Homo sapiens: one gene and its partners. The protein of the gene in region 2 purifies or fractionates together with the protein of the main gene of each other region. This does not show direct contact. Each region holds a gene or a part of one and is shown on either strand. Other genes may lie near its edges.

Region 1 (7,028 bases), on a different chromosome or scaffold from region 2:
TGAGGTCAGGAGTTCGAGACCAGCCTGGCCAACACGGTGAAACACCGTCTCTACTAAAAATACAAAAATAAGCCAGGCTTGGTGGTGCGTGCCTGTAGTCCCAGCTACTTCGGAGGTGGAAGTTGCAGTGAGTTGAGATTGTGCCACTGTACTGCAGCCTGGGCAACACAGTGAGACTCCATCTCAAAAAAAAAAAAAAAACAAACAAACAAAAACTAAAATATCAAGACTCAAGTAACCACCAAAAAGCTTTTACGAAGAAAATGTTTATTTTAAAACATGATTTCTCTATTCTGCTTGTAAGTTCAAAAGTTTTGGTGGCCCAAGTTCAAATTCTTTCAAAAACTACATAGTTATTATATATACAGATTCGTTTAATATAAATCACCGTAGCTGTAGGATATTTCTAAAAGGCTAATAAAAAGGTATTTAAAATGTTGTTGCTTCAGTTCCTTTACATCTTTACTGAAACATTAAGCATTCTGAAGGCATTTTTCATTCAACTTAGAGGGCATAAGATAATTTAAAAGATTACCTAAGAAAAAGCAATAAGCCCAGTAATTTTTGTATTATAATCTATGGAAAGCAAATACATTCAAACCGCAAGTGTGAACAAATTGTTAACTTTGGCTGGAATTTTGAAGCTGGTATTTCAAAGAAAACATCATGATTCAATACTATGAAGGCCTGACCACAAGCCAAAGACTCTGAGGTTCTGTCCCCTTTACCAAGTCAATTCACCTATTTTCGCTTTCCATTTTCTCACCTACAAAATAGAGAAAACTAAACTAAGATGCCATAAAAAGGCCTTGCTAGCTATTTAATTTTCATTTTCATATTAGTACTTTCATGTTGGATTAAAATAATTAACATTGTAGGCTTGTTGCTCATATCCCTGAAATGTTTTTCAGGAATTAATGTTTAAAAGCTAAAATTAATAAAGACTATATTACCTTAAGTTCAGCAACTTGTGATGAAATATGCCACATAAGGCTTTCACTTAGAAACTTCATACCATATGGGCCTAGTAGTTCTGATAATGACCTCATTTCTGAAAGAAAACATACTTAATTTTATACTTCCGACAGAGCAAATACTTTAAGAAAATGAACATTAACACAATACAACATCTCATTATAAAAACTAATGTAAAATCCTGATAAAAGTCTCTAGAGTGAAAGAGAGAATACAAAATGCAAAAGTAATTCTAAGATACAATATGCAGTTACGCATATAATTGAATGAAATAGTCACAACAGAATCAAAAGTCTAAAGAATCAAGACACTAGCAAAAGAATTAAGTGTTCTTCATTCTCTAAACTGTGGTATAGTACTATTCACCTGATATGTCAGAATATTCCTCTGCATTGAATGTTAATTCATTTTCTGTAGGTAAGTTCACAAACGCTTTCATTGCAGGAAAATATGCTATATGGCCATTGCTGACTTGTCGTAACAAAGTTTCCAAATACCTAAGGAGAAACGTAAACTTATAACCGGAAGAAACTGCTTAATTCAGAATGTATCATGATATACATTCCTGCATATAATTTTAAGTTGACTGATAATATGAATAAGTACTTATTCACAAAAAAATTAATTTTCCTAAGTACTTCATTACAAATTTTCCGCTACTACAAATTTCTAAATGCATTCCTTACCAATTTGTGTATAGACTTGTAATGGTTGGCTCTCCATGACTGTCTAAATGTTGTGTTTGTTGAAGAAGCACATTATTAAATACTCTTGTAATATCAATCTGCACATAGTTTTCTATTGACTGGAGTACGGTCATGTATGCTCTTACACTTGTTAGAAGTTCTGAAGGTTTTGCAATTTCCTGTGTGGCTTGATTATACATAGTCATCCCAACAATTGACCTGGGAAGAAGGGATAGAAGAATAAGAAAAGCCTCTGACTTTTCCATTCATGTAAAATAAACCACTCAACCTACTGTTATCTAATATTAAACAAGCAATAAAATTAACTTTAAAAATAATTTATTACAAAGCTGTAAAATTACTGTCATTATCTTCCCAGGAAACAGCGTAAAAAAAGAATGAAGGCCGGGCATGGTGGTTCACGCCTATTGTAATCCCAGCATTTTGGGAGGACGAGGCGGGCAGATGACTTGAAGTCAGGAGTTCGAGACCATCCTGGCCAACATGGTGAATCCTTGTCTCCACTAAAAATACAAAAATTAGCTGGGCCTGGCACATGCCTGTAATCCTGGCTACTTGGGAGGTTGAGACAGGAGAATCGCTTGAACCCAGCAGGCAGAGGTTGCAGTGAGCTGAGATTGCACCACTGCACTCCAGCCTGGGCAACAGAGTGAGACTGTCTTAAAAAAAAAAGAAAAAAGAAAACTTAAAAACTACAACGAAATGTGAATAAAATGATTAAAAACATTCTAAGTATACCAGTAACAAAAGTGATTTAAGTATAAAGAGGGTTTTACAAATTGCTTTAACATGGTAAGTTGTTTGTAGCAAGGACAGTGAACTATTTAGTCTACAGCTTGAATTTATTTGACACTGTTAGGTGCCAGTAGTTTTTGAGGCTTTATATAAATTACCTACAATCCTCACATTTAATAAACACCTACAATGTACTTATCACTATATCTCCCAGAGGAAAAAAATAAAGCTCAGGACTCACATAAATTGATAAGGTTTTGTTGGGAAGTGGTTATGACTAGGATTTGACCGCAGATCTGCCTGACTTAGTGCTGCCTCTAAACAAACTGTATGACAGTCAAACAAAATAAGGCAACAAACAACTTTATTTTCTTTAATCACTCATAGCATATAAAACAGTTCTGTTTATATCTCAAGAAACTGTATACGACTAAAAAGGAAACACAAATTTTGAAAATACTTCCCTAAATGATCTTATCCTACACTGACCACCCCTATTTCACTTTCTTTAAAACTCCCTGAGCATTAGATCTGTAAAGATCTTAGACTTGTATTTGTAAGGATGAATCCTTAAAAGACAACCGACAAATCCCATCACTAGAAACAGGCCAAGAAGAGCCAACGCAAGATGAAAACTGCTATCCTAGTGTATAATCCCTAAGTCCTAAGACTGTGCTCAGTTGATTGACAAAAACCAACCCACTAATATTCACAAGCTATCTGGCTGGCCAATATGGCGAAACCCCGTCTCTACTAAAAATACAAAAATTAACCAGGCACAGTGGCACACGCCTGTAGTCCCAGCTACTCGGGAGGCTGAGGCAGGAGAATTGCTTGAACTTGGGAGATGGAGGTTGCAGTGAGCTGAGATTGTGCCACTGCACTCCAGCCTGGACGAAAGAACAAAACTCCGTCTCAAAATAAATAAATAAATAAATTAAATAAAATAAAAAATCTTTCCAAGGTAAACAAGCTGTTCCCCTTGCCTTGATCCTAATCACTAAGTAGATGTTTGGTTAAAAAAAAAACTGCTTCTCTGTGGATTAACAAAGCAGACTGTTTACAAGGAAAACAAGGGAGCTGTACACTGAACTCTCCCTTCCACCCACCAATGTCCCACCTCTAACCCACTTGAGAATAATAAACACCACAAGGCACAATGCCCCTTTGGTCTAAGTTCTAGGGCATTCTGGGTTTTACTGTCAGGATGCCTGACTTACTAAGGAGAACAAAAGACAGTTCATCACCAGACTCTTCTCAAGTCAACTGATAATTTAACACTCAACTTAGTGCCACTTTATATACTGTCATATTCTGTTCTCTAATTCTTTTAGTCATCTCACCAGCTACAGTTCTATCTTTATCTCATTATTACCTAGAGTACTTAACACATTGTTAAGCATATAGTGCAAATACAAACACCACCTGTTAATGACTACAGAAACTTTGAAAACCTTTTGGCAAAATTTTGTTTTATAAATTGCTTCAAGGCTTTGAAGAAAAAAATTGTCAAATAAATAAAAATTTTCATGAATAAATATTAATAAATAAGGATGTAACTTCAGAAAAAGGTTAAAACAATATATATAAAGTTGAAAGGTTTCTGACTTATCAATGCACTATTTCATATACATACATAAAATATATATTCATATATAACAGGAAATTCTAATTAGAATTGAGAATTCAAGAATCTAGAATTCTATTGGCTTATTTAACAGCAACATGTGAATTCAGAAAACATGTAAGGGTTCATCTAGTCCTCAGGTCTTCAAACATTTTACTGTGACCTACTGCATGACACGCATCTTAACACTGCAAGTCAATACACATGCATACATGTAACTGAAACATTTCACGAAGCAATATATATATTTAATGCACACAGTGTACTGGGTTTTTTTTCCTATTTTTTCTTCCTCTTGTCCTTTCTTTCCCTCCCACTTTTCTCTAAACTTTGACTACAACCTAATAAACTGATTTCATGAACCTACTGGGTTGCCACCTGCAAGATGAAATACATTGATTTGCTCCAATATTCTCACTTTGTATATAAGGAAGCTATGACTCAGAGATATTAACTGGTTTGCCTGGTGTTACTAGTTAATACTAATAGGTATGAGAAAAGAATCTGGGTATCTTCAGTAATTTTCAGTTCACTATTCTTTGCATTTCCCAGTTCATTATTCTTGAGACAGAGTCTTGTTCTGTCACCCAGGCTGGAGTGCAGTGGCATGATCTTGGCTCACTGCAAGTGTGTCTCCCGGGTTCACGCCATTATCTTGCCTCAGCCTCCCGAGTAGCTGGGACTACAGGTGCCCACCACCACGCCCAGCTAATTTTTTGTATTTTTAGTAGAGACGGGGTTTCACTGTGTTAGCCAGGATGGTCTCGATCTCCTGACCTCGTGATCTGCCCACCTCGGCCTCCCAAAGTGCTGGGATTATAGGCGTGAGCCACCACGCCCGGCCCGGTTCATTATTCTTAACACTAATCCAGTTCTACTAATGCTTTTCCTTATAAAACACTGTATAATTAAATAACAAACTCATTACTGAGTCAACAAACAAAAACAGTCAATATTCTTTCTTACTTGGTAAAGCGTATTTCCAGATGAGAAGTCAAATATTCTCGTGGGGTAAAGGTATGTTCCCATACCACCATGTTTGGTACATAATTTATAGAGAAGCATAACTCAGAAAGTGCAGTGTGCAATTTATCAAGGCTGAAAAAAATTAATAAACAGTTAAAATGTTCACATGTCATCACAGGCAATACAAAATTAATTTTATAAATATATCAACCTTATTTGGAGATAATGCTTAGAGAATTCGACTTTTTATTCTCCTAAACTGAGAAAGTTCAAAATCTTTAAGGTTATAACTAACACATAAGAGCAATATTCTAAAGATGGCGTCATTTGTTTCTACCTTTAGGTAGTAATGAATATACTGACTTAATATACAAAGGTAGAGCTTATTCTGCACTCATAAAGATAATCACGCCCAATTCCTGAAGTACTTTCTGTTATGAGAGAAGGAAAGTTGTCTATAAAAGGGCAATGGCTTGCTCAATTTAGCAAGAAAGTAGGAACTATACTTTAAACAAAAAATATTTACCGAATTATTACCCACCTACACCTCCCCTCCAAACAATGAAGCAAGCAAAGATCCCTGAATGCTACCTGGTCTGTTATTTCTGTTTTATAATAATGACATTGGGTATGTTCTAATATATCAAAAACATGCCAAAATAAAGTCTCCACTATCTAACTTTAAATAAATTAAAAATTACAGATTGCTTATAATGTAACACACAAAATTTTTTAAACATATAATTGGCCTTCAGTACTTAGTATAAAAAGACAAATATCAACTATTACATATATTTTCTTCTAAAGGCCAAAATCTGTATTTTGAGATGAAATAAGCAACTAACAGGTTAATTAAGCTCAGAAATATTTTTTAAAATGGCTGGAAAATGAAGAATATACAATTATTAGCATTTCCTCAGTACTAATGTCAATAGAAAAAAATGAAATAAATATTTTACCTGGAGCAAAAAGGTATAATATAAGTGGATACTTACTTGGTCACAACCAGCCTGTTTTTCCTCATGCTCTCAACACCTGGTTTCTCCCTTTCAGGTTCCCCTTTCTTACCAGTCTGCTTTTTTGATTTCTTATTCACTGCTTGACTGATAGTTTTGGCACAATGCTTGGGTAGCAACTAAATTTAGAAAAGAATGAAATCTTACATTACACCAATTACTCTGAAAGCATACTAACTATTCAAGCAAACAGTAGCTGAATCCAGGCTGTGTTGCAAATATCACAACAATATTAAAAGACAGAAATATAAGTGAGATACAGAGCTTACTTAGCTAGCTTGGGTAATGCACATAGCTTGGTGAAAACAGAAACGGGTAGATCTTGGGTAAATCTTGTGTGAAGAAACACGTCATAGAGTAAATTCATAGACGCTTATTTAAATTACTATTAAAAAGACAAGTAAAAACATACCAGGCAAGCAAGGAATGAAAAAGAATATTTCACTGGAAGGATTAAATGGCCTTTGGAAAAAAACTGTGTAAAGATATGATGGTTCAGAGCTGTAGTTAGAACTACTATGTGGTGGAGCATAACGTGTAAGGTAAAGTACAGAGGTTTCAACTATTAGGAAGGGCCTTGAATGCCAAGCTAGAGGTTGGATTGTAAACTGCAGGCAAAAAGACAGCGACAATTTTTTAAAATAGCCACAGCATGAGGAGACATTTTCTTTTCTTTTCTTTTCTTTTGAGAAGGAGTTTCACTCTTGTTGCCCAGGCTGGAATGCAATGGCACAATCTCAGCTCACTGCAACCTCTGCCTCCTGGGTTCTCCTGCCTCAGCCTCCTGAGCTGCTGGGACTACAGTCGACTGCCACCACACCCAGCTAATTTTATTTGTATATTTTTAGTAGAGATGGGGTTTCGCCATGTTGGCCAGGCTGGTCTCGAACTCCTGACCTCAGGAGATCCACCTGCCTCGGCCTCCCAAAGTGCTGGGATTACAAGCGTGAGCCACCATGCCTGGCCATGAAGAGGTAATTTTCTAAGGATAACTCTGATATT
Region 2 (7,028 bases):
CAGAGTCATGGACTGCTCGCATCTGTTCTGGCCGGCTGGTGCCCACACTGGAGAGACTGGCAAGTATCTTGAGTGTCATCCCCAATGGCCCCAGGAAGGAAAATGGACTCTGTTCTTCACTTTCATTACTGTTGAGCTGCTGAATTCTCTTGCAAAAACCATCAACAGGCATTTACTAAGCAAATGCCCACAGGGAACCCAGCCTGAAAAGGGCCCTTCCAATTTCATATTTGACAGGCATGTGCAGAGGTAATGAAATTATTCAGCAGAGCATCAGATTCACTCAGAGGCTACCAAGCCAAGAAACTGAAAGCAGAAACACTGGATTCTCCCTGTTTGTTGAACCTTTCCCTCTAAAACCAACTTATTCAGAAACACATCCTTTAAAAAAACAAAAGGAAAAACCAAAGCGGTGAAACAATATCACTTACTGGTTGGAAGACATCACTCTGACATAGTCATTAGTCTTGCAGAGACCTAACACCAGGCAGCTTCACAAACACACAGCAAGTCTGCAGAGTTATATTGATCAGTAAGAGTAAACCCAAACTGCACTAAATACTCTCATGGCCAAGAGGAAAGCAGATGCTGTTTTCAGGACAATGTGATAGTGACAGCCTATTTCCTCATGTGCAGCACAATTTGCTATGTTTAGTGGCACTTAAGTATTACACAGTAAATACTGAAAAGACCCAGAATTTTTGGATGTGCAGAAGCAATATCACATTGTTTATACAAAAGGTGCTATGCTACGGGATTAGAATACCACTATTTGGGTGTAGAGACCACTTAAAATCTTCAACACGCTCCCACACGCGGCCTCTCCGCCGGCCTTTGCTCAGTCGGACCAGTCGTTCTCGTCGAACTCTGAGTCGTCGTCAGAGTCGCTGTACTCCACGGCAATGCGCCGGGACAGGATCGTGGCCACGTCATTCCCCACTGGCTCCCGCTTGGCCTCCTGCTCCCGCTGCTCCTGCACCTTTTTCAGTTGAATTCCTGCAGACACAACACGTGGTTCAGAATCACATCCTTTTGCTGGCTCCAAATTAAAGATAAACGAACAAATATGTCTATTGGACTTTTTTTTCTACTGACACTAAGGACAGAAAGTTTTAGAAATTTGAGGGGAGAAAAGCTCAGGGAATATTAAAAGTTTCATGAGAAAAAACATGCATTCAAAGTGAGAAGTTTTTTTGTAACAAAGTAATGTGTTAAAATATTAAAAATTCCTAATTTCAGTGTACCTGAACACCATTAGAGAAAACTGTGGAGCTGCACCATCCCAGACAGCAGCCACTAGGCACATATAGCCTTAAAAGCATGAACTGACATGTGGCTAGTGGCTACTCTCTGGGACGCTGCAGGCTGGAGCATTTCTATCACCACAGGACATCTACTAGGCAGCAACAGCATCCAGAGCCTTGGAAACAGTGTTCTATGCTACTCACTCTCAGCTAACCCAAGAAGTAACTGAGAAACCTTTATTTCAACAATTACTGTGGAAACAAACATAAAATACAATCATCTACTTTCTAGCTTAGTAACAAAGTAAGATATTTGATGATTTAATGTTTATCCATTTTTTTTTTTTTTTTTGAGATTGGGTCTCACTCTGTGACCCAGGCTGGAGTGCAGTGTTACGATCATGGCTCACTGCAGCCTCGACCTCCTGGGCTCAAGCAATCCTCCCACCTCAGCCTCCTGAGTAGCTGGAACCACCGGCGCACGCCACCATGCACGGTTAAATTTTGTATTTTCTTTTTTGTAGAGATAGAGTCTTGCAATGTTGCCCAAGATGGTATCCATTCATTTTTTAACTGTTTTGAAATAATTTCAGATTTACAGAACAGCTATGAGACCAGCAGAAAAACATTCCCATATACTTGGATTCCCCAACTGCTAACATCTGACCACATTTATTTCCCAATCTTCCCCTATCATCTTTACACAGACAGACACAGACACTTTTCTCTGGACCATTTGAGAGTGAATGGCATATAATGTCCCTTTACCCCTAAAATAGTTCATGTGTTACCGCCCCCGCCTCGCCCACCCAAAATATCAAAATCACAAAATTAGTTTGGATACACTACTACTATCTATCCTACAAATATTATTCAAATTTTGCAAAAAGACCCAATCTAATTGCAAATGGAAAAGATTATCCCCTGGTTCAGAATCCAGTGGAAATTATCCGTGACATTGGTTGTCAATTTTGTTAATGTCCTTTAATCTGGATAGTTCTTCACAGTCTTTGTGTTTTACAACCTTCTCGTTTTTGAAGAATATAGGAAGCTATTTTGCAGAATGTCTGTCGATTTGGGTGTATCAGATGTTTCCTCGAGATTAGATACAGATTATGTATCTACTCTTGGTAGACAGGGCTTATAAGGTGTTAAAAAAAAAAAAGGCAAATCCAACACCGTCCTACAATGACCCCGAACTTGATATTCATGAGCTAATATACCTCTAGGACTTTTTTATCTTGACAAAATAAAAGTGTGTCAATGATGTCCAGGTACACAGAGGACCCTGGGGTCTTTAGAAGGGTGCGTGGGCCACACTGTGGGCCTGGTTCATGGGCACACAAGAAAAACGCAGAGGCAGCAGCATCACAGCTCCTCTGAAGGACATCCCTGATGCTGAGCTGGCGGGCTGCAGCCAGGCTCCTTGCTTGGTCACTTCCAGATGAGATGACTAAACTGTGACCAAGTCTGTGCAGCTCCCCACAGGCGAGAAGCTCTTGGATATTCCCATAACATGTCAGGGACCCTCGACCAACCTGGGTTGGGACCTGGTTAAGAATCCATGGTGTGGGCTGGAGGTTCCCAGGGGCTCTCTGGGCAGCCCAAGACAGGCGAGGGCAGACTCCCCACCCAATTCCACCTGAGATGCTCTGTTTCCATGTGTTTTGTGGTCAGGGGGTCAACGCGGGACTTTCATCTGACAAAAGGGTTATGCTGTTGAATATTATAGATTCTGAAAAACCACTGGCTTAGGACATCAAGCAAATATGACAAGTCCAGCACAAACTCTTTTTTTTTTTTAAAGAAATCATTAATATGAGCTCACTTTCTTTCATTTATACTTTTCCCCTTAGAGCAGAATGCAGAGAAGAGATCCAATTAATTAATCGATCACTTCAGTTATTGGGTTTCTGGTTTCAAGGTAAGTAAAAACTTCCTAATTTCAATTCTTTTTTTTTTTTTGAGACGGGTCTCGCTCTGTCGCCTAGGCTGGAGTGCAGGGGCGTGACCACGGCTCACTGCAGCCTTGACCTCCCACACTCAAGCAATCCTCCCACCTCAGCCTCCTGAGTAGCTGGGACTACAGGCTCAGGCCAACATGCTCAGCTAATTTTTTTTTGCATTTTTTGTAGGGATAGAGTTTTGCCATGTTGCCCAGGCTGCTCTCAAACTCCTGGGCTCAAGCAATCCAACTGCCTTGGCCTCCCAAAGTGCTGGGATTACAGGCATGAGCCCACCGCGCCCGGCTGTTTCCCAATCTTTATCACAATTTGATTACCTTACACTGGACAAAAACACAACTACTATTCAAAACAAAACAAAAAAATCAAGTAAGACCCCTTTAACTCTATTTTAAAAAACGTAGTGAGTAGTCATTTGAAGACAAGGAGGCTGTAGCTGGCTGGAGACATGAAGAAACCTCTTGCTGAAAGGCAGGCTGTGTGTCTGGGGGCTCCACTTACCCATTCGAATAGCAGCGAGGAGGTCGCTTCGAGCATCACTGATTGGTGGCTGTGCAGGCTCTTGCCGCTTCGCCTCAGCTACTGGGGGGCCATGCATTGGGGAGGACGAAAGAGAAGACCCGGGACCAGGAGGGCCTGGCGGGGGAGGTGGTGGGCCCGGGGGTGGCGGGGCTGTGACCAGGAGCCCGGTGGAGGGTGGGTGAGGAGGAGCTGCGTGCGTGGAGCTGGCTGATGCAGGGAACGGGGGCTGCATGGGCATCTGGAGAGGGCTGACGAAGGCAGTTTGTGCTGAGGGAATCACAGGAGGAGGTGGCGGAGGAGGTGGTCCGGATGGGTTGTAATACTCAATTATCTGCGCTGGGAGCATCCTGAGAGAGATATGAGGCACATAGTCACCAAGGGAACAAGAGAGGGTCACGTCCTGGGAGCTCTTAGACACCTAACGGAGCCATCCCCAGACACAACACGTATTGTCACCTGAACTTCAATCATGGCAGGATGCAAACATGCACACCTTGGGTCAGTTATTTTCACAGTTTGACATTATTCATTATGACAGAAGTCAAGATCTGCTACTGAAATGTGCCAAAAGGAGGACCACTCAAAAAGTGCAGCACTTCCTGAAGAAAGGCAGAATAAAGCAGCTGACTGCAGAGGCCAGGACGGCAGCGCCAGTGAAGGCTTCACACTGGGATCTCAAGGCGGTAGCTCACAAACTTGTCTTTTAAGGGTCCTAAGGTCAACCAGATTGGGAGCTTTCTACATTCTCTAACCCACCTCCGTGGAAATGCCCCATGCCTGCAGTGCCCAGGTGTGTATCAAAAGCTTCGAAAAGTCACACAGCCAAGAAATCTGCTGAATTCTATTCAGCCGAGGGTCTTCCAAACTAACTGGACCATGGGCCCTCTCTTGGCCTGACACAGCCTCAAGCCACTCTGGGGATCCTGACTTGGCATGCATGGCCAGGGAGAGCACTTCTGAGAGCAGGATTGTCATTCAGACAGGGGTGTGCAGACACGTGTTAGCAGTGGACACCAACACACGGTAATTTTCCTGGGCACCAACTCTGAGGAATGAAGTCTTTAAAGACTAGAGTAAAGCCAAAAAAAAGAGAGGTGGGTGCCTAAATTGATAAACGCCTGAACATGAAGTCTCTGAATTCTACTTCTCAGGGAACAGGAGGGCCTGGGGCAGAATGATGTCTGGGTGGTCAGAGGTCACGAAAGCAGATTTTGGTCAAGTCTGAGAAATGAGGCACAGGAGCTGCATGGTGTGGTCTTCTCGTCTGTGATAACAATTTTCTGTGGTCCACTCAGGATGTGTCCAGAAACTTGAGGGTTTGGGACAGGTTCACAAAATCAGCACTTAATACCCTTTATCAATGCCTTGGCTTAAAGAGCCATTCAAACACCCAGAGTGTGTGTGAGGGAACACACATGCATGCACAGTGTGGCCTGAGACTCAACTGTAAGTCTGAGCTTATGCTGCACCTGCTTTATTTCACACAGAATGTTAGAGTTGCTAGTATCTACATCCAGTCATCCTTGACTCTATCTTGGCCTCTAAAATACCGGAGTTAAAATTCTCCTACCACATAGAGCAAGATTCAAATGCAAGGCCAGGAGGGATTAGGGTACAAGGCATGCTGAGTTACCCGTAGTCTGCTGGAGCCATCGGTGCAGAGGCCTGGGACCCCTCTGGGGCCTGAGGGGGAGGCGGGGGGGGCGGCTGCTGAGGTCTGTTGAGGGCCATGTGCCTCGCCGAGGCAGATGGGGGCCGGTACTCATGCTCCGCAGCCTGGCTTGCAGGCCCGTGTGGTGGCACGTCACCAGCTGCATAGGAAGGGGTCACAGGCTGGGGGTGCAGAGAATGGTTGGGAGTAGCCGGGTAAGAGTAATCCGTAACGTCCGATGCATGTGACCTGGCATTTGAAAACAAGAGGTGGGAGAAATTTAAATTAATTTAAAAATTGTCGGCTAACAGGCACATGGATGTATTTGAATAATAACATTGCTAATACACAAAAATCAGACATTAATTTGCTTTACTATCAACTAGGTATAGCCCCGTGAGAGATTCCAAGCAACAACATAATTATTATAAGTCGGCAGCAAGCCCCAGTGTTACATGGATTCAGATTCACAGCTTTGAAGTGAATAAGTCAGACAGACCGGCAAGCAGGAAACAGCAGAGCCTCCTTTTCACAGTATTTCAGCATACGTTTTCTCTAAGAAGGCTATGAAAGAAACCATTCCATTTAGAAACAGGATATAAGACAGAAGATTTCAGTGGCAATGAAACTGACAGCATATAATTAGAAAATATAAAATGGCAGGTTAACTGGATAAATATTAACAGTAAGAACAGGAAAAGAAATCGAGAATGCAGTAGAGTGAATCATATTTTTCTTAAACAGAAGAAATGTACTTAACAAAAAGGGCAGAAAGCAATGCGGTGCACTATGGAAAGGCCTTCTTTCCATAGTTTTCTTTGCACACAAACTGGGTGTGAAACTCCGAAAGGAAAGGGATCTTGGATTAGTGGAGCAGAGCTGAGACATGGGGTGCAGGGACGGGATTCCTGCTAAGCCCTCAGGAGGAGAGGAAGGACCCAAGTGTGGCAGCCCGGCAGTGCCGTGGGCGTTAGTAAGACAGTCACACGCTCCTGGCTCAGGTTACAGGACATGTGGCCAGGAGGGGCTGTACATCCTCTCATGGCGGCAGAAGCAGGGGCAGTCTGAGTCTGGGAACCCAAAGAAAGCAAAACAACAAACCCGCTGGGCACTCTGTCCTCTTTGGCGCTCCCTGCCTGCTCCAGTTTCTTTGCGTCACTCATAAACTCAATGCCCATTTTCCTTCTCTCCCACTCTTCTTTTCTTGTTCTGACTTTTCTCACATTTACTTGCTGGTTTCTGTTAGGGTTCAGCTTGTGTTTCTCTCTCTGAAGGAAATACCAAACACACATTGGGGGTGCTGAGGGAGCAGGGAAGATGCACGCTGCATTTCCATCTTTGGGATTCCAGTTGGTAGCTTTTCTTAACTGGGGCACCATGTGGCACAGAAAAGCCTTCCAAATGAGAAGAGACAGCTTCTTTTCCTTTTTCCTTCCTTAATTGAAGTGTAACAACTAATAACTACTCATTATTTTCTTCCCTAATTGCAGTATGAATTCTGGATTATGGTGCACTTCTGATTATGTCTTTTGAACTAGGTGAGCTGCTAGCAAATGACTTAAAAATATATTTAATGGGGGAAGGACCTGACCTGTATTTAGATTTAGAGTATTTTAAAAATGTAAATTCCTATAACCCTTGGAGACA
Region 3 (7,231 bases), on a different chromosome or scaffold from region 2:
TCACAGAGACCAACTTCCCTCAAAAAAGCAAAATTCAGGAAAGCTCTGGAGGGAGAGGGGCTGGTAATAGCCAAGGGTTGATTACATACATAAGCCAAATTCTTAATGATTATGTAATTAATACATTATAACAATAAATACATAAATATGCTAGTACTTACTATGTGCTAAGCATTCTGCTCGGCACTTTCATGCACCCCTTGGGTAGTAAGAGCATCCAAAGATATTCTAGTTCCTCCCCTGCCTCCATTCACTGCCAAGAAGGCAGCAGCCTGCCCCCCTTCTCCCACCATCTCACTACTGATGCAGGGGCCATCCCCTGGACCCTAGGCATGGCTTTGCTCCTCAGAATGACAGGACCAAAAGCCTTTCATAAAGACTCCAGTGAGGTGACTGATGTCTGGCTTTGTCAATTACAAGTGAATAATTAATACTTGCCAGTAAAGAAATAGACTCATTGTTACGGTGGCCACATGGAGGCTACAAAAGGCCATTTTGTGACGCTTTTGGTGGACCCCTGGGGCCAACAGTGGTCCAAAGAAGCTGCGTTGAGAGTGTAGTCCAATCTTTAAACGTAGGGACTGGGACCCGTACTGTTTTCCAGGAGCGCTTTTCCCGTTAATTAGCTTGTAGCCGATTCATCATCTCATTCAGCTTTCTGGTTGATGACAGCAGCAGAGGCCACTGAACATCAGAGAGGGCATGATTTATCAGAGGGGTCATGTAGTGTTCTACCAGGGCCTTTTACCGGTTTTTGAATTCATGTCTACTTCCTTCTCTGGGCCAGCATCTGATTTGAGTAAAACTCTCCAACCCCACTGGGTTGTACATCCGACTCTTGGCCTAATGCCTAAAGCAAGTTTTTCCTTTTTCATTTTCCAGCAGGGACTGAACAAGGCAGCCTTGGGTGCCTACAGAACCGGTCAGAACTGGCCAGGAAATATAATAAAGAAGCTTAGTGAGCAGAGAGCTAATGCCCCCAGCCAGAGGCTCAGTGCGCACAACTAGCTAGAGGCACTGACTTTGTAAGCAACAACACTATCTTCTTGAGGTCTAATAATTGCCTTGGCAAAGGGCAGCCAATGCCAACGAGGAACCCTGTGTACACAAGTTTCTCATCCCGAAAGTGGACACTGGGTGCTCAAAAAATGCCTTCTGGTGACAGTAACACCTGACCAGTCAAACAAACATGCACGCATGCACATGCATGCATACACACTCTTACAGCATTCCTGCCTGCAGGGCCAAAGCTGCCCTTGCCAAATACAGAGCTGACAGCTGCTAGATATTGTCATTTCAGGGACCCGTTCCCAAAAGAACTACCCAGCTCCCCACCTCCACTTCCAGCCCACTGTTTGAAATTCTACCATTAGTGATAGCAAATATTTCTACAGTGTTTCCCATTAAAGCTTTGTTTCCCATTAAAATGCCTCCATCCTCTGTTTCTTTTCCGGTCAAATGACTTGTAAAGCACCTGCTCTGCATCAAATGGGAACTTCTTTTGTATTTAGCTCTTCAAGATAAACACAATCATTGGCTCCTTTCTTGAAAACCATTTCTGACACTGGAGACTGGGGGAAGGGCAGGGCACTGTATGGAAGTGGAGGTGGGAGGCCACCAGGAGGGCCACAGAGAGAGGGTCTAATGGTGGAGAAAGCAACCATCAAGGCCTTCACAGGCCTGCCCAAAGATATGGACCTGATTTTTGCCCTCTAAGATCTCAGGGACCCAGGTTGCTGGCACAGCCTGTATCCAAGAGTAAGGTGAGACCCACTGCCCTAACTGGGACACAGACAGGAGGCAGGAAATGGGAACACAGGAACCGACAGTCTCCTGATTTGCCCCTCCTGCCAGCAGGCCTGCCTCCGTCTCCCTGCCCATGCTGAGGGCACAGGCACCCAGGAACTAGCAGAAAAAGATCCTTGTCCCATTCTTGGCCTAGCTGGAAGGACAGCTGATGGCTCATCAGCCCTGGTGAGTGTTTCCACTGTGCTGGGGAAAGTAGGCAAGCAAAGGTCAAAATCAGATTCCCTGTGCTGGGGAGGCACCTGGGCTGTCAGTGTCCTTTCCAGCCGGGTTCTGGATATAGAGGGCCATACTTATGTGGAACATGCTACCTGCCCCCATCCCCAAGCAGAGAGCACCTCCTCCTCTTCTTTTGCACATAGGTGGGCTGTTCTTTGGGGTGAGGGGTAGGGCTGACCTGAAAAGTAGACGCCACAACAGACAGGCAAGCATCTTCCTGGTTCTTCAGAGCTCAAGAAAAAAACCACCTTTTCCCCCAGGAGTCAGCCCACTCATCCCCTTCCCCCACTTCCACCGTGCCCGCAGCCAGCTTGGTGAGCGATGCTAGTGTAGGCCAGAAAGCTTCCAAGCGGGTCAGACCTGCTCCTCTCTCATCAAAGCCCTCCGCCCCCAAACATCGACGCTGCGCCCCTCGCCCCACCCATCACACGTTCTGTGTGCCCGAGGCGGCTGCCAGGCGGGCCCAGGCGGCTCTCGCTGGCCCTGGGGGAGGTGACGGTGGTCACGGCGGCAGAGGCAGGGGCCAGCGCTCTGCAGTACCTGGACTCGAGGATGTCGCCGCTGCCGGGCTCGCGGCCGCTGCAGGTGTCTCCGGTCCCTGAGATTAGCACCGCCTCCTCCCGGGCTGGCGGCTCCGGCCCAGGCCGCGCACCTGCTGCTGCGGCTCCCCCGCCGCCGCGCCGGAGCTCCGCGATGTGCCCGCGCCTCCCGGGCAGAGGGTCCGTGCCGCGGGACGCACGGTGGGTCCGAGGGGGAAAGGGGCCGCGTGGGGCCTGAGGCCGGGCCTCGGGCTAGCCCGGGCACAGCGCCGAGCGCCCCCCGCGGGCCGGGAGAGGGGGCGGCCCTTCGCGCATCCTCACGGCCTCATCCCCGTCCCCGGCGGCATCCTAGTCCCCGTGCCCGGCCCGAGGCCTGCGAGGGCCGCTTACCTGGCTCTGCGGCGGGTCCAGGGGAGGGGCCTGAGGCTACCGCAGGGCCCCGCGCCGGGGCGCAGGATGCTCTGCCCCGCTCCGCTGCGCCGCGCTCGGCCCCGCCCCGGCCCCGCTGCTCCGCCCGCCGCGGCTCCGCCCCCACCCAGCGCCCGCCCCTTCGCCGCAGCGGCTGTCACACAAAGGGCAGGAAATGGCTGCGGCGAGGGTCTCTCCACGCTCTCCGCTGTACCGCCGGCGCACCCAGGACCTGCCTCTCGGTTTCGGAGGACCGCTCAGCCCCCAGGCTTCCTGCCCTGGGGGCGGGAAAGGGAGGGAAGGCTTCTTCCACGGCCTCCATCACCGGGAACCACACCTGCAGCAACCCGAGGACGAGAGCTTCGGCCGCGTTCGGATCTTATTGGCCCCACATGATTTCCAAGTGCTCTTTTATCAACCCAGTCTTTATTGATTACCTATCCTGTTCCAAGTACCGTGCCAGGACTTGGGTGTGCACTGGTGTACAAAAGACAGGGTCCTGCCCCCTTGGAGTTTTATCACCTGCCAGGAGAAACAGGTGTAAATTAACCTAGCAAACGTCCAGTTACAGCCCAAAGTGCTCTGAGGAGAAGGAGCAGGGTGAAGTGACAGAAGATGCAACTGGGGCTAGGGGAAGGGGCCTTCCACCAATTGAGCTTGGTCGCTGATAGGGCTCCTTCGCTTAAGAATAAGTTCTTCCGCTCCCTTCCAGTTCCCTGGAGAAGAGTCCCTGAAGCTGCCACCTCTTTTACAGGGGCCTGCCTCAACTTCATTCTGGAAGAATTGCCTAACGGACAAATAGGTGGCAGGAAGCACTGAGAGGACAGGTACCTTTCTCTTCAAGGCTTATCTGCCGTGTCGGGCTCTTTAAAGAAGCAATTATCTGCCCAGCGGTGGCTCACACCTGTAATACCAAAACTTTGGGAGGCCGAGGAGAGAGGATTGCTTGAGCTCAGGAATTGGAGACCATCCTGGGCAACTCAACGAAACTTCATCTCTACTAAAAATTAAAAAAAAAAAAAAATAGATGGGTGTGGTGGCATCCACCTTTTGTCCCAGCTACTCAGGAGGCTGAGGTGGGAGGATTGCTTGAGCCTGGGAGATTGAGGCTACAGTGAGCTATGATCCTGCCGCCGCACTCCAGACTGGGTGACAGAGTGAGACTCTGTCTCAAAAAAAAAAAAAAAAGAATGAAAGAGAGAGACGGGGGGAGAGAGAGAGAGAGAAAGGAAGAAAGAAAAAGAAAGAGAGAGAAAGAAGAGAAGGAAAGAAAGAAGAGAAAGAAAGAGAGAAAAGAAAAAGAGAAAGAAACAATTCTCATTGAAATCCAGCCTGGTAGGCCTTCAGACCAGGCTGAAGTCAGGCTGCACCAAATTCTAACCTTGAGACACCTGAGCAGGTCACTTCACCACTCTGCTCCACAGAGGTCACCGTATCTGCAACACAGGGAATAACAGTTGCCCTTTATACCTTACAGGGTAAATAATTTGAAAACATTTGAGACATTGTGGAGTGTATGTAGATATAAGGAGTGGTTTCCTAAGGCCCACAAATTTATACTTAATCACTCAGCTGTTCCTAATAAGGGCAATTTGTGGAGGAGCCCCGTTATTCAAGCTCCAGCAAAGGACTTGTGGAAGCCTTTGCTTTCCTTTACTGATCTCACCTTATTTCCCACGTGCTCAGAATCCATAATTCCTTGTGGTTTGATCTTAAATCGCTAATTCCAATTCAAATTGCTATTTCGGAAAAAAATGACTTATATATATATATATATACACACACATACATTTCTTCCCTGGTTCAGTGTGAAAAGCTGTGGGGGTGTTTGTGGAGGATGGGTTTAAAAACAGAACTGAGGTTTCCTTTTTAAAAAATGTTTCATTTTCCACCGTGATCCTTGGGATTTCAAGTTCAGTGATTACAAATACTTAACAATGAGAATCCCAATAAATCAGATTTTCATTCTAAGGGGCATATTATTGCAGATGGTATAGTTTTTTGGAAGACGTATTTCTCCCTGTTGTTCCTTCCCTGTCTTTTCACCTTCAGGAACAAGTTGCCTAAAAACAGAAAAGACTATTACATATATATTTGGTTAGATCTTAGGCAAAAATAACTCCGACCTCTGAGTTCTATTTGTGTATAAAGGAGAGCAGTATGGTCTTTTGAAGCCACTGTGTTGGAAATCCAGAGGCTTGCCTTTTGGTTCTAGTTTTGCAACTAACAGAAGAATGATCTTAGGCAAGGAGCCTCACCCCTGTTTCCTCACCTGTTAAGTGAAGTAAGTTGGATGCTCTCCAACTTCCCTCTGAATGTGGAAAATTACATGAGTTAAAGGGCACGTCCCTCCCAGGCTTAAGGCACTTCCCTAGCTCCCCACTGCCCCCCGATGAAGCCCAAACTCTCCAGTGGCCGGAGAGGGTCTTTAAGAGCTGGCAGCTATCTCTCCATGTGAACAAGCTTGCTGTGCTTCAGCTAAAAGGAACAGCTTTTAGTTCCTCAAACTTGCTGTGTTCTCTGTTGTGCTCGACATTCGTACATGCAAGGCTTCTTCAATGGCAGTTTCTGTCCCCCCATTCCCTCCCTCCACATTCCACACTTTTTCCCAGTTTACCTGATGAAGTTCTGTTCATCTTCCTGGTATTCCTCTAGATGTCGCTTCCTCCAAGATTCCTACATGTCTGGGTTAGCTTGAGATTAGTTGTCTATGTGTCCTTAGCTGCCTGGGCTCCCTCTATCACCCCACGTATTAGTCTGCATTATAATTGTCAACACACTTCCCTGTATTCCACCATGAGACCATAAAATCTAAGGGAGCAGGGATATGTCTGTCTTGCTTTCCCATTGCATCCTTGGAGCCTGGTACTTAACAGGAGTTCAGTAAAAATGGATGGAATGAACACCCATAGGTGACATTTTTAAACTTTGCCACTGAAATGTATAGCTGTCTGTCTACTGCCTTCAGATTTCCTTCACATCCAACCCCAAGCTGTGCATCAGCAATGAAATGGTAGAGGATATCAATAAGAATTGCTTTGGTACTTGCAAAGCTGTGGCCCACATGTTGTCCATGTGGCAACATTACCTTGTGTTTTAGAAAAGCTTCAAGTTATAATCCCAGCACTTTGGGAGGCCGAGGCAGGTGGATTGCCTGAGGTCAGGAGTTCGAGACCAGCCTGGCCAACATAGTGAAACCCAGTTTCTACTAAAAATACAAAAAATTAGCTGGGCATGGTGGCGAGCGCCTGTAATCCCAGCTACTCAGGAGGGTGAGGCAGAATTGCTTGAACCCGGGAGGTGGAAGTTGTAGTGAGCCGAGATCACACTGTTGCACTCCAGCCTGGGCAACAAGAGCAAAACTCTGTCTCAAAAAAAAAAAAAATATATATATATATATGTATTTTAAAACTATCAGGAGACCCTGCTTTATAGACACCAGTAATGAAGTATCTGGAATGGGCATGAAGGGAAAACATAAATAATGATAATAATAATAATGGCTAACATTTACCAAGTACATTACCTCATTTAATTTTTCGTAATTTTTCTATAAGGAAAATACAATCATTTTTCCCATTTTTATAATTGAGGCAATTAAGGTTTAATAATTTGCCCAAGGTAGTGAAGTCAAACCCATGCTTTTTACCACAATCTCATACAGCCTCACTTTCCCTCTTCCAAGCTAAGTCCATTTGTTTACTAATATGCTACCTTATTCTAAAAACATATTAAATGTAAGTTACAGGAATACATTATGTTAAAAAATTAAAAATCAGCAAGAAATTTTTTAAAAAGAAGGAAAAGAGTAGAGAGATGAGATGGAGAATCGAATGTACATAAGACCAAAATGTAAACAAAACAAAAATCAATCACAGCTCTACCTGCTATGAGCTTGCTAACACATTTGGTTCTAAGTATTTATGTGGGTGGCAGGAAAAGATAAACTTGATGGTCAGTTACAGAATTTACATTGGCCATTCTGTAGATAGAACCTGACCACTTGCTCAAAATTGCCTCATTTTATAGGCAAGAGAATTGCTTGAGCCCAGGAGGTGGAGGTTGCAGTGAGCAAAGATGGTGCGGCTGCATTCCAGCCTGGGCAACAGAGCAAAACACTGTATCAAAACAAAGCAAAACAAAACAAAACAAAAAAGTATATCCCTTAGATTCTTGTGAAGGTTATATGAAATGATAATGTAACACACTAAGCAGAGTCTGGTACATAATAAATGCTCAAAAATGGGATTATTATTATG
Region 4 (5,845 bases), on a different chromosome or scaffold from region 2:
GTTCAGCTATTCTTTTTAAGGAGTGGCAAGATATGCCTGTTGACGATGTCATTGGTACTTTGAGTGGCTTCTTTACAATCATTGTGGGGATATTCTTGTTGCATGCCTTTAAAGACGTCAGCTTTAGTCTAGCAAGTCTGCCTGTGTCTTTTCGAAAAGACGAGAAAGCAATGAATGGCAATCTCTCTAATATGTATGAAGTTCTTAATAATAATGAAGAAAGCTTAACCTGTGGAATCGAACAACACACTGGTGAAAATGTCTCCCGAAGAAATGGAAATCTGACAGCTTTTTAAGAAAGGTGTAATTAAAGGTTAATCTGTGATTGTTATGAAGTGAATTTGAATATCATCAGAATGTGTCTGAAAAAACATTGTCCTCAAATAATGTTCTTTAAAGGCAATCTTTTTAAAGATTTCACTAATTTGGACCAAGAAATTACTTTTCTTGTATTTAAACAAACAATGGTAGCTCACTAAAATGACCTCAGCACATGACGATTTCTATTAACATTTTATTGTTGTAGAAGTATTTTACATTTTCATCCCTTCTCCAAAAGCCGAATGCACTAATGACAGTTTTAAGTCTATGAAAATGCTTTATTTTTTCATTGGTGATGAAAGTCTGAAATGTGCATTTGTCATCCCCACTCCATCAATCCCTGACCATGTAAGGCTTTTTTATTTTAAAAAAACAGAGTTATCCCAATACATTATCCTGTGATTTACCTTACCTACAAAAGTGGCTCCTGTTTGTTTGATGATGATTGGTTTTATTTTTGAAATATTTATTAAGGGAAAACTAAGTTACTGAATGAAGGAACCTCTTTCTTACAAAACAAAAAAAAGGGCAGAAATCACCCCAAGGAACGATTTCTCAGGTTGAGATGATCACCGTGAATCCGGCTTCCTCTGAGCATTCGATGGCCTTAGCACCTCATCAAGCCAGCACATCCTGCCTGCTGTTGCAGCCTGGCTGGGTTTATTCTTCAGTTACCCTAATCCCATGATGCCTGGAACCTTGATTACCGTTTTACATCAGCTCTTGTACTTTTCAGTATATTTTCATAATGAGTTATATTGTCATTTAGACTTTGAACAGCTCTGGGAAATAGAAGACTAGGGTTGTTTCTTAAATTTAGCTCATGTTATAATAAAAAGTTGAAATGAAGTTCTTATTCTAAAAGTCTGAATGCTTAGAACAAACTTAACATGTTTATAGAATATGGTCTCTTTGTACCAAGTACTTTGCTTAAGAGCTCCTTTGGGCCACTACATATTTTGGTTTCTAGAAAATGTTTGTTTATGAAGAAGTCGATGGAAAACTGCAAACATATGCAGAAAAGGTAGAATAATAAAAAAGGTCTAATGAACTCCATTCAGCTTTGAACCTATCCACTCATAACCATTGACTGGCCTTTAAAAAAAAGTATTGGCAGAATTAATTTCCACCTAGGTGATGGGAAGAAAGTGTTCGCCTGTTCCAGCCTGTGGCTCCTGCCTGGAGGTTACCCAGTGGTGCGCCAGCGCCAAGCCATCACTCCCCGAGGGCCTCCCCTGCCAATGGTGCTGGTATCCCATGCAGCTCACCACTGGCTGCGTGGAAACTCCCTTTTTTCCAACTTTATTATTGGCCTTCTAAGGAGCTGTTTTAGATGTTTTTTCTAACTGCCTCCTCCCATGCCATTTTAATACTACAGATGTACTACGTATCTGTTTATATACTGTACCTACATCTGTGCTTTGTACATAAAAGAACCAGTTTTCTCCCCCTTGAGGACAGAGACTCATTTGAACATGCATAGGTTAATAAATAATAAATTCTTATTTAACATTTTGTAGCACTTGAGATTGTCTTATACCTAAGGTATTACATATTTGGTATATAATTAAGCCTTATAAAACTTGGTAATTGATTAAGTTTTACCATAATTTTTCATCCTATTCTGTAGTTTCTAAGATAAGCACAGCTACCACCTCTAAATCTGCAGCAGAATGCTGGCCCCAGGGTTATTAATTCACATTACCAAAAGCATTTTTAGGGAACTTTTTATAAAGAAAGAATAATTGTTTGTTAGGCTTCATGTCACTTGAGTGAGTTTGGCAGTGTAACAGGATGGTTCGTACACTTACTACTTTTCTGTGCCGTGCATCATATGCTTCTGGACAGTTTCCAAAGGCCTCCGGAAAAGTAGGCGAGGCCTGCTTTTTATGGCAACTTGGCATCCATAGAAAATTTTAAAATTGGTGAAGGTTGCAATACTCCAAATAATGTAAAATGACTGCCAGGCTACAATATAAAGTGAGTTCAGTTAATCATGCTGGACTTGTGTTTATCTGTAGTATTCATCTACAATAAACAGGCATAGCATCTTTTTCCATTCAGTTAGTTAGGATTTTCAGAACCTCATTGCCTTAGTACTTTTTAAAATATGGCTTTAGTTTCTCAAACATGTTCGTGACTCTACTGGTAGTCTAGACCGATTGTTTTTCATTCTGACAGATCATGTGAACCAGCTCCAGCCATGTGAGCCCTGTGGATCGGGGACAGCTGAAGGCTGGACTCGGTGCTCCCGGTCCCTTTGTGCAGCACCCACTGGGCCTGACTGATCTCCTCCCACATTGCTGGCTTCCTCCAGGTCATGGGCACAGGTAACAGAGAGGCACTGAGTAGCCTCTTCATATCCAGATTGGAGCAGCCAACACGGCCGTTTTACACCTCATTTGCCTGCGGAACCCTAAATATAAAGCTAAACCTGTGCTGAGGTGAGCGGTATATGGGATGGTGTCACGGTCCCATCCCACCTCAGCCTTAGAGGTGACCTCCATCCCAGCTGGCCTGGTATGTGAGTTCAGGTTAGAGTTCCTTGCCAAGCCAGGCAGCACAGGGTTAGAGTAAATAAATGAACACAAATAGATCTCATTAGTTTTATTTCTATAACCTTTCGATCTGATGTCACGTTAGATTTTGTCACAACTGGATTTAGTGGAAGCAGGGGAATCAAGTTCACTATTTTCTGAAACACACAAAAAAGGGATGGGAACAATGACTTAGAACTAAGATTGCTCATAAAAGACCATCAGAAAGATCCCTAAACAAAAGCTAAATAGTTACAGTTAATGGTAACTGGCAAGGGATTTAATGCATTTGCTGGTATTAAGTTTCTTATGGAATGAATGAATGAACCCAGCAGCATTTTATGACACAGCTGCCAGAACATCCCATAGAAAAACAATTTTGTAGGAACGTGATGGCAACAATCAGCAGCCAATATTCTCAAGAGTTCCTAATTACCAAAAGCATATACAATTTTAGTCTAGAAAAATAAGTCAATTTTATAAAATTAAGTTTTTAGATCGAAAAGCACCCCCTTTAACAGGTACAGAGATACTGAAAAATAGTCCCTAAAAATCTCACTAAATAGTTTACGGAGAGAAAGGCATGCCATGTTGAGTTACGGAGTGCAGCGCGTGCCCTCAGCTGCTGGCGAGGGACTGGTGGATGGGCGGCTGGAAGCAGCGCACATGCTCCACTGGCGTGCCCTCCCCGTCGCCTGACTTCAGGTACTTATCCAGGATGGTGATGATCTCATCATTGAGAATCTGGAACTTGCGAATTCTCTCCACCATCTTCTTCAAAGGCTACAACCATCAAAGTGAGGATGTTTTACTATTAACACTTCAACATTTATTCTTCATGTTTCAAAATGTCAGGATTCTTATATTTTCTCAGAAAAATAATAGCAAACGGAATTGACACACATACTGTTCTTTTTGGGTTTTTTTTTGTAAGATAGGGTCTCACTCTGACGCCCAGGCTGGAGTGCAGTGGCATGATCACGGCTCACTGTAGCCTCAAGACATCCTCCCACCTCAGCCTCCTGAGTAGCTGGGACCACAGGCGTGTACCACCACACGCAGCTAATTTTTAAATTTAATTTTGTAAAGACAAGGTCTTATTATGCTGTCCAGGATGGTCTTGAACTCCTGAGCTCAAGCAATCCTCCTCTGCCTCAGCCTCCCAAACTGTTGGGATTACAGGTATGAGCCAGCACTCCCAGCCACATACCATCTCTTTAATGCAACAGTTGGAAGGATGAATATATTTTGAATTTAGAATCCCTCTGTTGGCTTCATGCTGCTGTAGATTCATTCATGCGCACAATTGATAGGCCTATTCCTTCCACATTGGCAATTAAGAACCTACTGTCTGCTCAAAGCTGGGGATCTCCAGATGAAGATGATGTGGTCAGTGGAGAAAGGCCAGTCAACTAACACAAGTTTTAGACTTCCAGTTTGGAAATACTGTGACGGGATACTCTGACAGACCCTCCTGCTACCACAGGAATAAAGAACACGAATTAAGAACATACACGCAAACAAAACGCTTTGAAAAGCTGGTTCTACCTATGCAGGTGGTAAGGGGGAAGCCAGGGCCTCCTCAGGGGCAGATGCCAACAGCGGCGGTGGGGTGAGGAGCAGCCCGGGCGTAAGCAAGCGGGACCACACCGAAGACTCCCCAGTGAAGCCAGGACCTCCAATTCGGCTAAAGCGGCCCTGAGTTGGTAGCACCCCATAGAGATGGGCAGATACAAATGCACATCTTGGGGGAAAGCAATCTAAATTAACTCCAGTTAAATAAAGACTCCCAAATAACCCAACACACAAGGAAACAGCAAAGTTTTAAATACCTCCAAGGCCTTCAGATACTAGAAGGAAAACACACAGAATATAGAATACATGAATTGGATAAAGAAATAAGAGATGGAAAAAGTTCAGTTAAGACAATAAAACTGTCAGTTACCAAGAAGATTTGAAGAACCTAATTGAACTTTAAAAAGTGAACTAATAATATTTTCAGAGTAAAAGCTCAGCAGATTAGAGCTGAAGTAAACAAGTTAACTAAGACACATGAATACAGTATCTGGACACAGCTCTGGGAGCCCCGGAAATGGAGGAGTGGGAGGCAGAAGGGCCCCTGAGAGAGGCCCATGACCTGGAGCCTGTGACTGCATTGCCTCCACTCCACGGGGCCTGGGCAGGTGTGGCTAAGACTGGACTGTAGAACAGGGAGAGTATCTGGGGTTGTCCAGTGGGCTCAATATAGTCACAGTCAGGGAATGTTCTCTGGCCGGAGGCAGGAGAGACATGGCAGAAGACTAGAGGCTGAGACTGCCCAACCCACCATTGCTGGAGGGGGCCACTTGGAAAGCATGAGAAGGAAGGGGGACCCAGTCCTACAGCTGCAAGGAATAATTGAGCCAACTGTGCATAAGCTTGAAGGCCTCCAGGGTGAACCCAGCACCTCAGACACTGGCCCCATGAGACTGAGCAGAGGACCCAGCTGGGCCTGGCTGAACTCAGGCATCTGACTTAGAGAATTGTGAGATAATCAGTGGTATTTAAACTGCCAAGCCTGTGGTGATTTGTTGTCATGGAAGCAATAGAAAACTAATACAACAGGGCTGGGCGCGCCTGTAATCCTAGCACTTTGGGAGGTGGGCGGATCACCTTATGTCAGGAGTTCAAGATCAGCCTGGCCAACATGGTGAAACCTAGTCTCTACTAAAAATACAAAATTACAAAATACAAAAATCAGCCGGGCGTGGTGGCAGGTGCCTATAATCCCAGCTACTCGGGAGGCTGAGGCAGGAGAATCACTTGAACCTGGGCAGCAGAGATTGCAGTGAGCCAAGATCGTGGCATTGCACCCCAGCCTGAGCAACAAGAGCGAAACTGTCTCAAAAAAAAAAAAAAAAAGAAAGAAAAAAGAAAACTGATACAACAAAGAGATGTGGAGAATAGAATGAGAAGGTCTAACATATGTTTAACTGAAGTCCTGAATG

The links.
Region 1: the proteins of WASF3 (region 2) and NCKAP1 purify together in Homo sapiens (affinity purification with mass spectrometry; 3 studies listed by BioGRID and IntAct, with this or other methods). This does not show direct contact.
Region 3: the proteins of WASF3 (region 2) and CYFIP2 purify together in Homo sapiens (affinity purification with mass spectrometry; 3 studies listed by BioGRID and IntAct, with this or other methods). This does not show direct contact.
Region 4: the proteins of WASF3 (region 2) and CYFIP1 purify together in Homo sapiens (affinity purification with mass spectrometry; 2 studies listed by BioGRID and IntAct, with this or other methods). This does not show direct contact.

The regions. Positions count from the first base shown.
Region 1 is NC_000002.12:182,951,452-182,958,479, forward strand, and holds part of NCKAP1 (nck-associated protein 1), read right to left. Parts: intron 6,146-7,028; coding exon 6,006-6,145; intron 5,143-6,005; coding exon 5,011-5,142; intron 1,881-5,010; coding exon 1,662-1,880; intron 1,473-1,661; coding exon 1,342-1,472; intron 1,052-1,341; coding exon 954-1,051; intron 1-953. UniProt on the Homo sapiens protein: Part of the WAVE complex that regulates lamellipodia formation. The WAVE complex regulates actin filament reorganization via its interaction with the Arp2/3 complex. Actin remodeling activity is regulated by RAC1.
Region 2 is NC_000013.11:26,679,656-26,686,683, reverse strand, and holds part of WASF3 (actin-binding protein WASF3), read right to left. Parts: exon of another isoform or gene 6,650-7,028; coding exon of another isoform or gene 6,483-6,649; exon of another isoform or gene 5,631-6,482; coding exon 5,364-5,630; exon of another isoform or gene 4,269-5,363; intron 4,078-4,268; coding exon 3,710-4,077; intron 3,169-3,709; exon of another isoform or gene 3,101-3,168; intron 997-3,100; coding exon 839-996; 3' UTR 1-838. UniProt on the Homo sapiens protein: Downstream effector molecules involved in the transmission of signals from tyrosine kinase receptors and small GTPases to the actin cytoskeleton. Plays a role in the regulation of cell morphology and cytoskeletal organization.
Region 3 is NC_000005.10:157,261,919-157,269,149, reverse strand, and holds the start of CYFIP2 (cytoplasmic FMR1-interacting protein 2), read right to left. Parts: upstream 3,028-7,231; 5' UTR 2,955-3,027; exon of another isoform or gene 2,566-2,954; intron 2,370-2,565; exon of another isoform or gene 2,204-2,369; intron 1-2,203. UniProt on the Homo sapiens protein: Involved in T-cell adhesion and p53/TP53-dependent induction of apoptosis. Does not bind RNA. As component of the WAVE1 complex, required for BDNF-NTRK2 endocytic trafficking and signaling from early endosomes.
Region 4 is NC_000015.10:22,866,552-22,872,396, forward strand, and holds the end of CYFIP1 (cytoplasmic FMR1-interacting protein 1), read right to left. Parts: intron 3,642-5,845; coding exon 3,477-3,641; 3' UTR 501-3,476; downstream 1-500. Other genes in the region: magnesium transporter NIPA2, read left to right, coding at 1-296. UniProt on the Homo sapiens protein: Component of the CYFIP1-EIF4E-FMR1 complex which binds to the mRNA cap and mediates translational repression. In the CYFIP1-EIF4E-FMR1 complex this subunit is an adapter between EIF4E and FMR1.